2 separate regions of the Homo sapiens genome follow, and region 2 is linked to region 1. The links come from fine-mapping of genetic effects on gene expression. A gene starts in region 1. The other region holds a variant in brackets. All regions are shown on one strand. Distances are from middle to middle. Region 1 holds the start of ATF5 (activating transcription factor 5). Region 2 has its middle 1.6 kb from the start of IL4I1.

Evidence for each region. PIP is the estimated chance that this variant, and not a neighbour inherited with it, causes the effect.
Region 2: its variant is fine-mapped to the expression of ATF5 in whole blood (INTERVAL, PIP 0.96).

Annotation. Positions count from the first base shown.
Region 1 is chr19:49,928,058-49,930,981 of GRCh38, forward strand. It overlaps ATF5 (activating transcription factor 5), which reads left to right and starts at 1,148. Exons shown (of 3, transcript NM_001193646.2): 1 at 1,148-1,343; 2 at 2,675-2,924. The coding sequence starts at 2,794. It overlaps NUP62 (nucleoporin 62), which reads right to left and starts at 1,447. Exons shown (of 3, transcript NM_016553.5): 1 at 1,269-1,447. It also overlaps a transcript of IL4I1 not described here. RefSeq lists silencers at 978-1,037, 1,888-1,937.
Region 2 is chr19:49,897,164-49,899,910 of GRCh38, forward strand. It overlaps a transcript of IL4I1 not described here. Among named protein-coding and RNA genes, the nearest start is that of IL4I1, 1.6 kb to the left of the region's middle. RefSeq lists an enhancer at 654-833. The variant C/T (reference allele first, on the strand shown) is at 1,241.

The DNA of each region.
Region 1 (2,924 bases):
CCTGGGCACCCATCATTTGGAATGGAAGATGAGGATAGCTGGAAACAGACACTTTAGAGGGATGAGGGAGACAGAAGAATGACAGCAGGTGTTGGACAGTCCAACGTCTGCGGCTCTTACAAGTGGTAAGGAAGAAATGAGACTGGGCCCCAGAGTTCCTATTAATAAAATATGCTGAGGCCGGGAGCGATGGCTCACGCCTGTAATCCCAGCACTTTGGGAGGCCGAGGCGGGCGGATCACGAGGCCAGGAAATTGAGACCATCCTGGCTAACACAGTGAAACCCCGTCTCTACTAAAAATACAAAAAATTAGCCGGGCGTGGTGGCGGGCGCCTGTAGTCCCAGCTACTCGGGAGGCTGAGGCAGGAGAATGGCGTGAACCTGGGAGGCGGAGTTTGCAGTGAGCCGAGATCGCGCCACTGCACTCCAGCCTGGGCGACAGAGACGGAGAGACTCCGTCTCAAAAAAAAAAAACAGTTGAACAGGAATGTATGAGTTGAGCTCTGTGCATAAGGCTTGCCAGACATCGTCTTATTTGAGTCTCATAAACCCACCAGGCGAGTTGATTTTTCTTATTTTACAGATAGGGAAATGAAGTAAGAGAACTTAAGTTATTTGCCCGAGGCCATCCTGGCAGGTCTGTATTTGGGAGAGTGCTGTGACTCATGCTGGACTCTAACCCACGAGGGTTTCTCAGAGTCAGCAGCTGGGGGATGAAGAAGTGAAAAGTGACTGGCAGGAAATTCTGCAAGCAAGGAAAGGGAAAGAGAAATGAACTGGTGCAGGTCTGCGGGAAGAGAATGAGGCTGGATCCTCAAAATCACAGGAGGAAGCAGGCCCAGACCTCAGAGGCAGAAAGAGAAAGAAACCAGAGCTTAGAGTCAGGAGGAGGAAACCAGACCCCGGAGCCACAAGGAGAGGGCTGGATCCCCGGCTCAGAGGGAAGAGGTCGGATCCCCAGCTGAGAGGGAGGAGGGTCCCGGACCCTAGGAGTGGGAAGGAAAGGCTCGGATCCCCTGATCCCCAGGAGGAGGGGACCCGGCTGCCTCCCGGTTGGGGCCGCGCGAGGGCGGGGCGCGGAAGGATCCGGGAGGGCCGTGCTCCGCCACCCAGTATATATCTGTCCCCAGTCCCCGGGGCCGCCTCATTCCCTGTCCTCGGATCACAGTCTCTTCTCACTACAGTGTCGCCGCCTCTGCCTGCGTAGCCCCGGCCATGGCTCTGTAGCCTCGACCCCTTTGTGCCCCCGGCCCGTCTCCGCGCTCACCACGCCTGCGCTCTCCGCTCCCACCTTCTTTCTTCAGCCGAGGCCGCCGCCGCCTCTCCTTGCTGCAGCCATGGAGTGAGTAACCGCTTACCTCTTCTCCAACTGCCTTTCCCGCCCTTTCGCAGCTCGTGGCCCTCTTTAGGGAGCCCTGGGGGGTGGGGAGTCGCGAGCGGGGAATCACGGTCGCGCAGGCGCAGAAGTAGTACGGTGGGCCGAAGGCGCGCGGCTGCGCATGCGCACTGGGCCCGGGGCCGGGTGGGAGAGTTCTAGACTCGATGTTTGTCAGCCCGCGTGCAGCTGGGCCTGAGCACTCCAGGGGAGGGTGTGTTTTTTTTTTTTCTAAACGATTCTTCGTGCTTGGTTGTTCCTGCGCAGTAGCCCACCAGTGCCCCGTAGTGAAAGAGCTGCGGACCCTGAATGGCCGCACATGCGCATTGATCCCCAAGAGGGCGGAGGTGTAAAGGCAATTGGACCGCTCGGGCGACGTAGCATGCGCCTTGGCCCTCGGCGCAGAGCCGCGTGTGGACGGGTGGCGTTCGGGTAGCCGTTCTCCGCGTGCCCCCTCTACCCTCCTCCACCCTCCCTGCCCCACGTTGCTCTGGCTCACAGCCCAGCTTCCTTCCTTTTAAACCAGGCACCTGCTGAGGCGGGGACTGGCTTAGATTGACAGGGCAGAAGGCGGGACCCAGAGGCAACCCTCTAAGTGGGTGGGGATAGAACCACTGTCGTCACGATGGGTGGGATTTCGGAAGCACATTGTGAGAAGGGGCGGGGCTAAACCAACCGTTAGTTGAGGGGTGGGGTTTCGATGTGACAAAGAGGCGGGGCCTCTGGGGAATCGGGGGAGGGGCGGAGCTAAATAAACAATGAGGGGCGGGGCTTGGAGGGGCAGCGGCAGAGCGAGGAGTGGGATTTGAGTGGATAACATTGCTGAAGGGCTGCGGCCTGGGGCAGTTCCCCTGGGAACTGGTTTGGGATGGAAGCTAGGAAGGCAGTGGGGCCAAAAGGAAATATTTTAGAGGAAGGGGCGTGGCTGGAAGAAAATGTCCCTGGGATTGAGTTTTTCCTTGAGGCGAAATATTCTGAGGTGGATGGGAGGGGCCTAAGGTAATTCCCCTGGGAGACCTTTAGGTTTTTTTTTTCTGTATTGGGGGAAGGGGTGGGGCATCGGTCCTACTTTAGGACCTAAAGAAATTCCCTTGGGAGTGGGTGGGGCTCAGAGATTTGGGTAAAGAAAGGGCAAATTTAGAATTCGGAGAGGCTGAGGCTTAGTGTTCTAAACGGTGGTTGGAAGGGGGAGGGAGGAGCCTCATGGACGTGCCTGGGGGTGTGGCTTGGCTTCCCCTTGATTTTGGCCGGTGGATGACGCTGTCCTGACCACACCCACTCTTGTCTCACGCGTGTAGGTCTTCCACTTTCGCCTTGGTGCCTGTCTTCGCCCACCTGAGCATCCTCCAGAGCCTCGTGCCAGCTGCTGGTGCAGCCTCTCCTGTTGCCATCAGTGCCCAGCACCTGTGCTACAGCCATGTCACTCCTGGCGACCCTGGGGCTGGAGCTGGACAGGGCCCTGCTCCCAGCTAGTGGGCTGGGATGGCTCGTAGACTATGGGAAACTCCCCCCGGCCCCTGCCCCCCTGGCTCCCTATGAGGTCCTTGG
Region 2 (2,747 bases), 31 kb before region 1:
CCTGATCACCAGGCCACTTGTTTCTATCCTCCCCTGCACTCTCTCTGCCTCCTTGATTCCCACGGGGACAGAGGGGCTACAGGTCCCTGGGCCAGGCCAACTTTCCCCTCCAAGTCCCTCTCCGTCAGGTGTCGCCATGTCCTGCAGGGCCCCCCATGGTTCCACTTCCCTCTCCACTTGCCACCCAGAGCCTCAGTCTCCCCCTCCGTTACATGGGTGTAGCAGTGGGGCTGGCAGCCGTGGTCCCGGGGTCAGGACGTGGGCTCTGAGCCCGCCCTCCCCTCTGTGGCTCTCGTCTACAGCTGTCAAATGACGTCTACAGACGTCACAGTGTTTTAGGATCAAGTGAGTGAATCCAGGTTAAGTTCTGTGGCCGGAACCTGGGGTAGTACTGGAAGCTGCTCCTTTGGAAATGCCAGCTGCTGTGGCCGCAGGGGCACTCAGGGGTTCTATGAGTGACCACCCGGCAGAGGGAAGCGCCCAGGCTTCACCCATCCCTGCTTTAAGAACCACCTCAGTGCTCAGGGCAGGGAGTGGGGCGGCACCTTGGAGTGGGTGGGGGTGGAGAAACAATAGCAGGGACTTTCCTTGGGGTGGGGGAGAGGGAGCCAGGGGCTCCGTGAGGAGGAAAACCAGAGGGAGGCAGATTCTCTGCAGCAAGGGTTGGGTGGGGGTTGGAGGGCATTAACAAGAAGGAAGATGGGAAACTCCCGCAGTAAATCAAAGAGGGATGCGGTTATGGCCGGGAGGGGCTGGGGGGTGAATGTGAGTAACAAGGCATGTGACGCAGGGGCGGGAGGCCGTGGCAAAGGGAAATGATCAAAGAGCTGGAGAGTTCAGGGACCGAAAGAGCTTGGGTCAGCAAAAATAGTGACGAGGGCCAGGGGTGGCTCACGCCTATAATCCCAGCACTTTGGGAGGTCGAGGCAGGCGGATCACCTGATGTCAGGAGTTCAAGACCAGCCTGGCCAACATGGCAAAACCTCGTCTCTACTAAAAATATAAAAATTAGCCGGGCATGGTGGCATACGCCTGTAGTCCCAACTACTCAGGAGGCTGGGACAGGAGAATTGCTTGAACCCAAGAGGTGGAGGTTGCAGTGAGCTGAGATCGTGCCACTGCACTCTAGCCTGGGTGACAGAGCCAGACTCCATCTCAAAAAATAAAAAATAAAAATAAAAAATAGTAATGAGGGCCGGGTGCGGAGGCTCACTGCTGTAATCCTAGCACTTTGGGAGGC[C/T]GAGGTGGGAGGATTGCTTGAGCCCAGGGGCTCGAGACCAGCCTGGCCAAGATGGCGAAACCCTTTCTCTAAAAAAGAAAAAAATAGTGACAAAAATGTTCCCATGGCGATCACCTGCCTTGGAGGCCGCCTGGTGCTCAGGGCTTTGCACCCATCGTAAGCCTCACAATGCCTGCATTTGAGGCCAGGCACAGTGGCTTACGCCTGTAATCCCAGCACTTTGGGAGGCTGAGGTGGGCGGATCACTTGAGGTCAGGAGTTCAAGACCAACCTGGCCAAAATGATGAAACCCTGTCTCTACCAAAAATATAAAAAATTAGCCAGGCGTGGTGGTGCACACCTGTAATCCCAACTACTCGGGACACTGAGGCAGGAGAATCGCTTGAACCCGGGAGGCAGAGGTTGCAGTGAGCCGAGATTGCACCGCTGCACTCCAGCCTGGGGGACAGAGTGAGACTCCGTCTCAAAAACAAACAAACAAACAAACAAAAAACCAACAACAATGCCTGCATTTGATAGTTGAGGAAACTGAGGCTTGGAGATGGCGAGAGGGTGGGACAGGAGGACCCTGGGGCACAGAGAGGGGAAAAGGCTTGGCCTAGGTCTCAGAGTTTCATTCACAGCGACATGTCAAGTATGAACGCGGCGGGATTGGGGCCTTATTCGCCTGTGCCTCGACCTGGGTCCCACAGTGGGGAATGGCAGTGCTGGCATTCCTCACCAGGTCGGGTGGGCCCCAGGTCCCCGGCCCCTGCCCAATAGCTTGTTCAGTCCTACAGCCGCATAACAGTGGAAACAACCATGGAAAGGTGTGGAGGCCCACAGCCAACTGGCTCCCAGGGCATGTCCCAGGAGTTTTTGGGTCCCCAGAGTGGGTGGGGCCCTGCACCAATCCCCTTGTCCTTATCACAGAGGGTTGTTGCACAAAACTCCTCTGGCCCCAGGCATATGTGCAGCTCACCTTGGGGGACTTCTGGGTGGTTGTTGTTGTTGTTTTGAGAGATGGGGTCTTGCTGTGTCACTCAGGCTAGAGCACAGTGGCACAATCTCGGCTCACTGCAGCCTCAACCTCCCGGGCTCAAGCAATCCTCCCACCTCAGCCTCCCTAGTAGCTGGGACTACAGGAGTGCACTACCACACCTGTTTTTTGTTTTTTTTGTTTTTTTTAATTGAGACGGAGTCTCACTCTGTCACCCAGGCTGGAGTGTAGTGGCGCTATCTTGGCTCACTGCAAGCTCCACCTCCTGGGTTCACGCCATTCTCCTGCCTCAGCCTCCAGAGTAGCTGGGACTACAGGCACCTGCCACCACGTCCGGCTAATTTTTGTATTTTTAGTAGAGATGAGATTTCACCGTGTTAGCCAGGATGGTCTCAATCTCCTGACTTTGTGATCTGCCCGCCTCGGCCTCCCAAAGTCCTGGGATTACAGGCGTGAGCCACCTCGCCCGGCCACACCTGGCTAATTTCTGTGCTGTTTGTAGAGATGGGATTTTGTTATGCTGCCCAG